Linked DNA regions of Homo sapiens. The protein of the gene in region 1 purifies or fractionates together with the protein of each later gene. This does not show direct contact. Each region holds a gene or a part of one and is shown on either strand. Other genes may lie near its edges. The genes, in order: ACAA2, ACSF2 and LARS2.

Region 1 (3,652 bases):
AGGAAGTGAATGATGCTGTTAGTAGAAGTACAAACTAGTTTGACCTTTTTAAAGGACAGTTGGTTAAATACATTTGTTTCTTTGAGCACAGAGAAGAAAGTGAAATCCAATTTCATTTGTAAAAGTCTTCATTTTATTACAAACAAAATAAGAGCCAGAGGCGTATTTTAATAAAACAATTTTCACATTAATTTGTTTCTATAACGATATATCTTAAATAGTGACCTCGGTTTTCCTAGTAATAATTTTAAGAACCATCAGGTTCATAGAGGCTCATTATTTGCTCCTTTTCTGAGAAAGGCAAACAGTGGAAAGTGTTGGAAGAATGAAGTGGTTTCCTTTTTATGAGTCACCTAGATTGAACTAGTTCTTGTAAATCTCTGTTCTTGTTCAGATACATCCATTAATGGGATAAATTTTTCTTTTGCCTTTTTAAAGGGTATGTCCTTTATTATCTGCTGTACATTTATGCCAGGTATTAATATCTGTTGATTTTCAAGATTTATATTGTGTTAAGAATTACTATTCTTAGCCACATGTAGGTAGGGCCTGTTACTCAGGCAAACATGATTGAAACCTTTTAGTTTTCTCCTCCTACATCTTGGTAATGGATACTTTAGCATTTGCTTTACAGTTACTTTAAAAGCATTTCCTTTTGAGACACTGTAAGCTACAGTACAATATTTGTTTGATTTACCATTAATTTGTAAAATCAGTGTGTTTCTTAATACATTGTTTGGGTACGGTAAAAGGAGTTTTTATTACTGTTTGTTTTTAAATAGGAAATTTGTGTTAAAGAAGCTGAAGTTGTTTTATGTGGAGGAACCGAAAGCATGAGCCAAGCTCCCTACTGTGTCAGAAATGTGCGTTTTGGAACCAAGCTTGGATCAGATATCAAGGTTGGAACCATAAAAATTTAAAAGAATTAGTTCTTATTAGCATTATATAAGTACTTTTAATAACATACCTTTTTATGGGAGAGAAAACTAATTTTGAAGCCAATTTCGTTGATGAGGATTGGCAAGATATGAATGATTAGAAGTTTGTAAACTATTTCAAAACTCTATTTTGGTGGTTAGTTTTGACATTTTAACCCATATGAAATTAGATTCTATCTATCTCAGCAGACCTCTAGTAGTATAATTATCCTGTGTAAGTGGCCATAGGCATGGGAGAGATGGAGGAAGGGAAGAAGTGGATTAAAAAGATAGACAAAAGAGTGAATTAATCTCACTACTAAACAATTAGTAATCTGAGTAATTAAATCTTTAACGTGACTTATAGAAGTTTTATTTCTGGGACAGTCTCAGAATAGATTTCTTCATCATCACAGAAAACATCTTTGAATACAGATTATATTGTCCCAAATCAAACAAAAACTGATTCTTTTATCTTTGAGAGCTACAACTTGAGAATGATGGTACAGTACTGATAAAGAATGATGTTTTCTTCTCATTCCCATGTGAAAGGGCTACTGACATTTTATATTTTTTAGCATTTTCTATAGTAATGTTTGACTCACACTGTTCACCCAGTTTCTCACCTGGCCTTTTTGGAAGTTGAAAGGAATGGGACTTAAGAGAATCTATGCGGATTTTAGCCACCAAACACATTTGAGATATCTTTTATGAAGACAGGTCAGTGAGTTAAATGTTGATGAGGCAGCAAAGTGGGGCACACTTACCAGAGACTAACTACTTGAATAATAATTAACAACCTTTCTGTAACTCTGGGAACCTGTCCCAAGATCTTTTCAGCCTCATAGTAACCGATAGAACCAGCTATTCCTGTCACTGAGGCGCAGGATGAAAAAGAAAAACAGATAATACTGTTTATTACAGAGCTCAGGGCTGGTTTACAAAGATGGCTATAAGAAAACATTGCATGAAGACTCATTGTCAGGTTTTCTACAAAATATGACCTTGAGGATTTAATTTTTGATCGTAGGGTAACTTCTGTGATCTCACCATGCACGTCTAGTCCTGTTAGCTGTTCTTAGACCCCCACATTTAGAGAGGGACAGAGAATGTGTGCATTTTATTTTGTGACATTGAATGTTTTCAAAAACATTGCATGTTTTTAAAAAATATCCCATAACTGAATATGAATAGTGGTTATCAGAAAGTCTTAATTTTACTTTTGTTTATTGGAAGTGTTGATTATTTAAAGAAATTATAACATATTACTTTTAAAAGGAAATGCCTTAACAAGTCACTTTATTAATGTCTTTTAATAGCTGGAAGATTCTTTATGGGTATCATTAACAGATCAGCATGTCCAGCTCCCCATGGCAATGACTGCAGAGAATCTTGCTGTAAAACACAAAATAAGCAGAGAAGAATGTGACAAATATGCCCTGCAGTCACAGCAGAGATGGAAAGCTGGTGAGTGAAACTGGAAAGTATCAGTATCTATAGAATAAATATCTATAGGAAATATTTTCATCATTTCTATTATGGTTATATAATATTTACAAATCATACCTTTAAGAATTATTACATCTTTTCATTATTCCTTTGTCTTTAGATGATCAGATATTTTATTAATTATTGCAAAATTAACTAGGAATTTCTCTTTTGAAAAAGTTAGTACTACTTAAAAAGTGGTATTGCTACTTGACCCTAGATGGACCCTTGAGTTTTGTGCTGAACTGGTCCTGTTGTCAGTAGAACATGATGAGGAATACGATACGTTCTGTCAGAGGTGATAGCTCACTGTGGCAACTGGAATATAGAGGATGTCCTCTCCCACAAGCCATATCATAATCATAAGAAGGGGTAATGTATTTGGAAAAGACCCACTGGGTCTTTTATGCTTTCCTTCTGCCACTCCTAATTAAGAATCATTGTACCTAACTCAGAGACTTAGAACTAGTCCGAGACTCTAGTTAGAGTGCCCTGGTGTAGCACAGCAGGTTGCTATAGAGCCGGTCCAAAACAGGCAAATGTGACAGCAGTTCTTTTAGCAGTGCAGCAAGTTGAAGAAATGTGATATTTAAAAAATTAAACTGTTAAAGCAAGTGGAAACTCTTATTTAGGAATATTAAATGCTTGAAGTAATGAGGATAAAGTCCATCTTAGCATTTCAGAAGGATAAGTGGAATAGAGCTGATGCCATCTAACTCGTGTGTTTTTTTACTTATATGTTCATAGTGGAAGAGGATTGGTCTAGAAGTCAAGAGTTATCAGTTCTGTTTCTACTTCTACCACGCACAAGTTATCAAGCTCAGTCATATCATTTATTCACTGAACCTCTGTAAGATAGAGATAACAATATTTGCCTTCCCTATTTATCTAATAAGGTTGTTTTAAAACCAAATAAGGGCATATAAGGAAAGTATTTTGCCAATTGTAAAGTGATATGAAAATTAAGGTTAGTATTATTCCTGACCCTATTTCCAAAGCTATAGATTACTACAGTACATTCTAGTCAGTGGAGGTCAAAGTAGGTAAGATGTTTTACTTATAATTGTATTAGTGATTGCTCCCATAATTTCTTCAGGTTGCCTATCACTATTAAGTTTCAGTTAGATTACTTTGTGGCATAGACAACTTGGTAACTTTTTAATTGCTTATCTCACCAAAAGAAGTTTAAAAGGGGTATTAAGTCCATTTATTGCCATTACATCTATAGCAAACAGACAGATGCTGCT
Region 2 (3,652 bases), on another chromosome or scaffold:
CACCACCAGGTCCTTCATATTTATCTTGTTGATGATGGCTCGGATCAACTCTGGAGGTGCAGGGGACCCAGCAATGACACCTGAATCAGAGAGAGGGCTGACACAGCTCCCCAATTCTCCAGGCCCAGTGGAGTCCTTTCACCTACAGCTCATTCAGGGGAGGAACATTCCCTTTTCTCCTCTGACCCCGAGCCTTTCCTACACCTGGCAGCTGGCCCTGGGCTGGTGTCCAGGGACACTGGGGATCTCCCTCCCTCCCACCCACATTTTTACAGCGTCCTTCTTGCCCCCTATATAAAAGACTGGGAGCATAGCTAACTCACCCGGGCCATTCCTGTGGGGGAAGCAGCCCCCTCCCCAAGCCTGGCTGCCCTTGGCCCCACCCCACCTCCACACATGGTCGAGATGTCATAACTGGAGAAGTCTGGCTGGTTCAGAATGTCCACGAACATCGTGGGGGTACCATACAGGAAGGTGCCTCTGTATAGGAGGAGGTCTCGAAATTAGGCTTGGAAGTGGAAGGGAACTCCCTGTTCTCACCCACCCCGCCATGAAACTGCAGCAAAGGGAATAGGCAGGAGAAGCTCCTGAGGCAGGAACTGGTCCTCTCCTGGGGGTCCTCCACTGTCCCCATCCTCAGTCTCCTGGCTGGAGGGAGGAGGCAGCTTGGAAAGGTGTCAGGGCCCAGGAGTGAGGAAGAAGAGGGTTTTATCAGCCCACAAGTAGCCTGTCCACCAGTGCCCACCTCTCTCTGCTGATGGCCTCCAGTGCCTTCTTGCCATTGAAGATGGGAGAGGCCAGGATGAGGGTGGCACCGTACATCAGACACATCATTGTGCCTGCCACGGAACCCAGGCAATGGTACAGGGGGTTGGGCAGGATCATCCGCAACTGCTCTGGTGTCTGGTGATGGAGACAGGAGGCTGGGTCTGTCTTGGAGCCAGACGCCAGTTCCTCTCTAGCTGGCAAGGGGAGCCCAGCCAGCCCCCCACCCCTGCCTGAGCCACCCCTCCTGCAGCCTTGCCCTGGGCCTAGTGCCGCCTCACCTTCTCATGCAGTTTCAGGCGCTCTCCTAAAATGTTGGAGTTGTTGACAATGTTGTAGTGGGAGAGGGTGGCCCCCTTGGGGCTGCCTGTTGTCCCCTGACAAGGCAAACAGGGCATGGCTTGGCCTCCTTCTCATCTCCTTCCCACCCTGGGCCACTGCCTTGAAGAGCACGGGACCGGGAATCAGGAGACAGGGATTGTTGCCCCAGATCCATCTGTTCAGTATATTTGCAAAAGGTCTACCACGATACCAGGTGTCAGGGTCCAGCAATGCAGAAGATAAGGTCTCCGTTCTCATGCCACTTACATGGCCCAGAGAACTCTGCCACCCACAAGCTGGCTTGGGCAAATTCTCTCTTCTGCGTCTCTGATTCCTCATCAGCTAAATGAGGGGCAGCCTGTAGCAGTTCCAACCTGTGTTGGTTCAGTGAATCTGCCACTGCACCGGGAACAAGAGGGCTGGAGTGGAGAGGGCGGGGGGCTAGGGGAGGAAATGTGACAAGGACACCAGGTGCTGATATTTTCCAGGGCAGAGAGGACAGCTGAAGGCCAGTCTCAGTAAAGAAGGCATGCTCTCCTCTGCTGTCTCCCCATCCCCGCGGAAGTGTCACAGGGACAGGGGGCATGTGTCCATCTGGGCTTGGGGCCTGGAGACCTCTGCCCTACCGAGGTGAACTGGATGTTGATGGGGTCATGGCAGGACAGGAACTGCTGGTTGTATTGGAGCTGGTCCAGATGCTGCCGTGTGCTGCCAGCCGCCACCACTTCATCCAGGAGCAGGGTCCCCGGCAAAGGGGCATCCACCGAGATGACTGTGGTCAGATCTGGGAGCCTGGGGTTGGGGACGATGGTGAGAGACAGGGGCTGAGGGAGGGGGCAGGGTGGGTAGGAAGTGAAGGAATCAGGGATGCTGAATGATGCACCACCCACTAACCTGGGACACACCCACCTCTGACTCTTCAAGGCCCCTGGCTGGGCATTCTCCACTTCTGGACAGATCTGCTTCAGGACGTTGTAGTATTGCTGGGTCTTGAATTGCTTGGGGAACACAAGGGCCTTGCAGCCCACCTGTGGAAGGGGAGTCCCCCACCTCCAGTCAGCGGGGAGCCCCAGACTAGAGCTCTGGGGGAGTCCTCACTAATCAGCTGCTCTCATACAGATGCACCCGCTTCTGACACACACACCTCCAGCACACTCACAGGCACCACACTCCAAGACAAATGCACACATGTACCAGCCCCGAGACACACACACCACACCCTGAGACACATATGCATCACATATGAGGATGGACACACGCACACACACACACACACACACACACCTCTGCCCTGACACACACATGCCCCCGTCCCTGCACACTCACGCCAGGTTTGTGTCTGACCAACCACGCTCTCCTTGGAGTTGGGGCCACCTTCCAATCACACATGGCCTAAGGAAGGACACTCTGCGTATCACCCGCCTATGCATGCCCTAGCTCACACCGTCAGACTCTGACAAGCAGAGTCTGTGCAGCCCCCTGTGCCAGGCCCCAGCCGGGCCCCTCCCCGACAAATGAGCTGTACCTTCTTGAGGACATACTCCAGTTCCATAGCCTGGTAGGCTGGGTTCACAGACACCTGGTGGAAGCGGCGAGGGCATATCAGTATTCTGGGCAGACCCTGTCCCTCCTGCTGCCCCTCCGCCCCCAGGAGGCATAGAGGCAGCACTCTACAGCCCCCTAACTCCCAGAGACCTCCTTGGTGGGCCTCAGGAGAAAGCACTACCTGGTTTGAAACCAACAAGGCACTGGTTTGATCCTGGGGCTGAGGGCCTGAGGGGCTCCCCTTCAGTGATGTTCCCCCATGCACACCAAGCTGTGCCAAGCAAGCCCCTCCTCACCAGAATGATGCCCGCCTGGGCGGTGGCCAACTGCATGAGCACCCATGCATAGGAGTTAGGTCCCCACATGCCCAGCCGGTCACCTTTGCAGAGGCCAATGCTCAGGAGGCCAGAAGCAGCTTTGTCCACCTAGTGTAAAAGATGGGGCGCAAGGGGTGAAAGGGGGCAAGCAGGAAGGGGCCCAAGACTCCCACCCTCAGCCCTTAGCCCGGAGTTCTCATCACAGTCACTGGGGACAAAGGGACAGGCAGATTCCCAGCCTCAGTGGGTCTGCCCTGGGGCCTGCATAGTTAACAGGTGCCCCAGGAGCTGCTGATACAGGAGGCATTGGACCCCTTGTGCGTCAGTCCTGTCTCCTTCTCCTGCCATCCCTCGGGGTTCTCTGGCAGCCCTAGCACATTGCCCCATAGCCAGGTGCCCACGCTCCTGGTTCTGCCCAGCTAGGGCAGCTTGGGAGCTAGTACTTGCCCACTTTGAGGTTTCCAGGTCAGGACCCACCTCCTCCTTGAGTTGGGCAAAGGTCAACCTGACGTCTTCATGGAGGACGACCAAGGCCTCTCGTTCTGGGACCCTCTGTGCTGTGGTCTCCAGGCACTGGCCCACAGTCTTGCTGTTAAGATGCTTTTTGGTGCACCCCTGAACGTAGCTGAGGCCTCCGATGGGCGTGGAGACCATGCGATCCACCTCTCTGGAACTGTAGGGAGAGGAGCTATGGGTTTGACTGT
Region 3 (3,652 bases), on another chromosome or scaffold:
CTAATTTTTTGTATTTTTTAGTAGAGATGGGGTTTCACTGTGTTAGCCAGGATGGTCTTGATCTCCTGACCTCGTGATCCGCCTGCCTCAGCCTCCCAAAGTGCTGGGATTACAGGTGTGAGCCACCATGCCTGGCCTAATTATTTTATTTTCTACGCGGCCCAGGCAGGTCTTGAACTCCTGGCCTCAAGTGATCCTCTCAGCTTGGTCTTCCAAAGCGTTGAGATTACAGGCATGAGCCACTGTGCCTGGCCCCCACTGATCTTAAAAGCTTGGAGAGGACTTCATTTTTAAAAAGCATTTGTTAATAGCTTTAATGAATGCTTTTGTTGTCCAGTAGCTAAGAACATTTGTTGACAAATCCTTTCCCTGGCAAGAAAAATGGTAGTCACACTTAGCAAGAAGGAAGTCCATACTGAAAAGGCTGACTTTTGGCATTGGTGAGAACGATCCTGATCCATCCAGGTTAAATGAATATCAAATGTAATGATGCCGAGGAGGTATCACAATTCATTCATGAAATCAGACAGCGGGGGTGCAAAGAGCCAGAAGACAGGGAGGCCTGAGTCTGGTCCTAGATTTGTCACTAATCAACCAGACATGTCATCTAACTTCCCTGGGCCTCAATGTCCTCATCTGTAAAATATTGGGGGAGAAGGGGGTTTGGACCAGAAAATCTTTAAGAACATTCCAGCATAAAACTAGGTTGTGACTATGGAAAAATGTTTCCTTAAGATAATCAAGCCACACTGAGGCGGTGACACAGTGGGGGTGCTCTCTGTCCCTCTTGGGACCCTGTGGGGCCCCTTGCCACACCTCTCCCTCCCTCCTCTGCTACCAGCAAATGAGGACAGGCCACTTACCGAGAGGGCATTGCTGAGTCCCATCAGCTGAGAAATTGCAGAATTCAGTGAGAAGTCCTCTGTGAAATGGGTGGTCACCTATTAGTAAAGGTTCAATTATTTACTTATTTCAAAATTCTTTTAAGCTTTCCACAAAAAGACTGAATTATCAAAACAAAAAAAAAGGAAAATGAATGGGATGCAAAGATATTTATAAATATATCTACTATCTCAAATAATCGCTATGTTTCATCTACACAAATATTTTAAAATTCAAAGTCAACACTGTTTCCACTGTTTAAGACTATTCTTCCACATATCTGGGATACTGTTGGTTCTCATAGTAGGTGCTTAGAAAAACAGTGCTAGTGGCTGGGCACAGTGGCTCACACCTGTAATCCTAGCACTTTGGAAGGCCGAGGTGGGTGGATTACTTGAGGTCAAGAGTTCGAGACCAGCCTGGCCAATGTGGCAAAACCCCATTTCTACAAAAATACAAAAAATTAGCCGGGTGTGGTGGCGCATACCTGTAATCCCAGCTACTTGGGAGGCTGAGGCAGGAGAATCTCTTGAACCTGGGAGGTGGAGCCTGCAGTGAGCTGAGATTGCGCCATTGCACTCCAGCCTGGGCAACAGAGTGAGACTTTGTCAAAAAAAAAAGCAATGCTAGTAACATGAATAGGACGCAGGACCCACTGATGGGTAAACTCAACATAACAGAAAACAGGAATAAAGGATGCCACTTCTGCTTGGTTATGTGACTTTGCTTCACAGTGACGGTTTTTAGAATATGGGATAAGGTTAATTTTACTTTTTTTTTTTTTTTTGAGACGGAGACTCGCTTTGTCACCCAAGTTGGAGTGCAGTGGTGCGATCTCAGCTCACTGCAACCTCTGCCTCCCAGGTTCAAGTGATTCTCCTGCTTCAGCCTCCCGAGTAGCTGGGATTACAGGCGCGTGCCACCACGCCAGGCTAATTTTTTGTGTTTTTAGTAGAAACGGGGTTTCACCATGTTAGCCAGGATGGTCTCAATCTCTTGATCTTGTGATCTGCCCGCCTTGGCCTCCCAAAGTGCTGGGATTATAGGTGTGAGCCACTGCGCCTTGTCAATTTTACATTTTGAAATGTACAGTCAACATAAGAACATTAACACAGCTTGTCAGCTTTTTCATGTTTCTGTGCTTTTCCATTTTGACTATAGGCAAGAATACAGAAAAGTAACACATCTTTAAGGATGTCAAGAGTTTCCAACTTGTTGAAATAACCTAATTCTTTTATCTGACAGAATAGAAGAATTTGCCAAATCCAGGGAGAAAATATGTGGTATGAACTCAATCGCTCAGGCATCACTCAGACCCCTACATTCATTCAGGGAGCTCTGTTCCTCCACATAGAGAGGGTACAGAGGCCAGAAATAAAGCTGAAGAAGTGTCAACAAATAAGACCATGCTGGACCCAGGGCCACTTCAGGTTATACAAACCAGAGAGGCAAAAACCTGCCATGCATCATTGTGTTCATTATCAGAGTGCAGATGAGCGACACTGATTAACTTTATGTCTGAATCAGCATAACTTTTTTTTTTTTAAATCAGCTTAAGAAGAATTTGGGATATCAGATACCCATTACAATGACTTCAGATTTGCAGAAATTAACCCACAATAGTTCACATGGATATTGTGTAACAAAGTAACTGAGTGGGAAAGTCCTCACTATGTGGAGGACTGGGATTCTAATCTCTGCTCAGTTCCTCACTAGCCGTGTGACGTTAGGCAAGATATCTGGACATCATCTCTGTCCCCATCTGTACAATGAGGAGGCTACAGAGGATAGTTTCTTAATGCCCCTTCCAACTCTAAAATTGTATTTCTGTTAATGTAACATATGCGGTGTCATCCTGGATGACAGGGTGATCCTGGATTTGGTTCTCTGCTTGGATGTGTTAAATGTGGAAACATGGAAAGTGGCAGCTTCCTGAGACCCAGGATGGACAAATGTGAGACATCATCAGAGAGCCATTTCCTGGGGGCATCTCTTTCCATTAGAACATATGCACTGTTGATCCACCTTGGTAAAGTACCCAAAACAGTAGGGCCAATCAATCAAAGCAAGAAGGACCGCCATTGCCAGGAAGGAAGACCCACAGTGGCCCAACCCAAGGCAGGGAGGGCAGCAAAGACCACAGGCAAAGGTTCCCAAAGAGTGCTTGGTTACAGAGTTAACCCCTGGAATTGGAGAGTTTCTGACCTGAGAGATGACGGAGTTCTTGTACTCCCAGAGCTTCCTGGCCTCAGCTTTCTCCTTGTTACTCAGCAGCTGAGGCTGGGGAGACTTCCCAGAAGCCCTGGCCTCAATAAACCGAGTTGTCAAGGTCCACAGTCGTTGTTGCCATCTCAGCACCCCAGGGAGAGCATCAGCTGAATTCAGCATCAGTAAATGAGAAAGAGAGAGCGTGCAACATAAGGGTGATTGACTTGGTATAACTAAGCAGAGAAAAACACCTGTGAATTGATGTGACACTTCACTGCACCCTGATGGATTCCTCTGAGGGCAGGCTGAAGGATCCTCCCTGGCCTTCAGTGTCTGAGAATTCAGACCAGGACCAATTCTATCTCATTTTAGTGCCCAGATTCAGAGCACTGGATGGCAGGGCCACTCAAAGTGCCACCCACCAACGGTCATGAGCTCAGAAGCTTGGTCAAGATGAGCCCTGGTGCCCCGCCGCCTTGATTAAGCAAGCTTGCTGGGACAAAAATGCCATGGAGTTAACATGGTGCTTTGGAGACAGTGCTGACTCCTGCTGGTGCAAGCT

Evidence for each region.
Region 2: the proteins of ACAA2 (region 1) and ACSF2 purify together in Homo sapiens (affinity purification with mass spectrometry; one large-scale study listed by BioGRID and IntAct). This does not show direct contact.
Region 3: the proteins of ACAA2 (region 1) and LARS2 purify together in Homo sapiens (affinity purification with mass spectrometry; 2 studies listed by BioGRID and IntAct, with this or other methods). This does not show direct contact.

What each region holds. Positions count from the first base shown.
Region 1 is NC_000018.10:49,793,012-49,796,663, reverse strand, and holds part of ACAA2 (3-ketoacyl-CoA thiolase, mitochondrial), read left to right. Parts: intron 1-782; coding exon 783-899; intron 900-2,236; coding exon 2,237-2,384; intron 2,385-3,652. UniProt on the Homo sapiens protein: In the production of energy from fats, this is one of the enzymes that catalyzes the last step of the mitochondrial beta-oxidation pathway, an aerobic process breaking down fatty acids into acetyl-CoA.
Region 2 is NC_000017.11:50,460,646-50,464,297, reverse strand, and holds part of ACSF2 (medium-chain acyl-CoA ligase ACSF2, mitochondrial isoform 2 precursor), read right to left. Parts: intron 3,622-3,652; coding exon 3,426-3,621; intron 3,057-3,425; coding exon 2,928-3,056; intron 2,666-2,927; coding exon 2,612-2,665; intron 2,115-2,611; coding exon 1,996-2,114; intron 1,879-1,995; coding exon 1,713-1,878; intron 1,143-1,712; coding exon 1,047-1,142; intron 904-1,046; coding exon 746-903; intron 481-745; coding exon 389-480; intron 81-388; coding exon 4-80; intron 1-3. UniProt on the Homo sapiens protein: Acyl-CoA synthases catalyze the initial reaction in fatty acid metabolism, by forming a thioester with CoA. Has some preference toward medium-chain substrates. Plays a role in adipocyte differentiation.
Region 3 is NC_000003.12:45,517,508-45,521,159, reverse strand, and holds part of LARS2 (leucine--tRNA ligase, mitochondrial), read right to left. Parts: intron 3,258-3,652; coding exon 3,088-3,257; intron 942-3,087; coding exon 864-941; intron 1-863.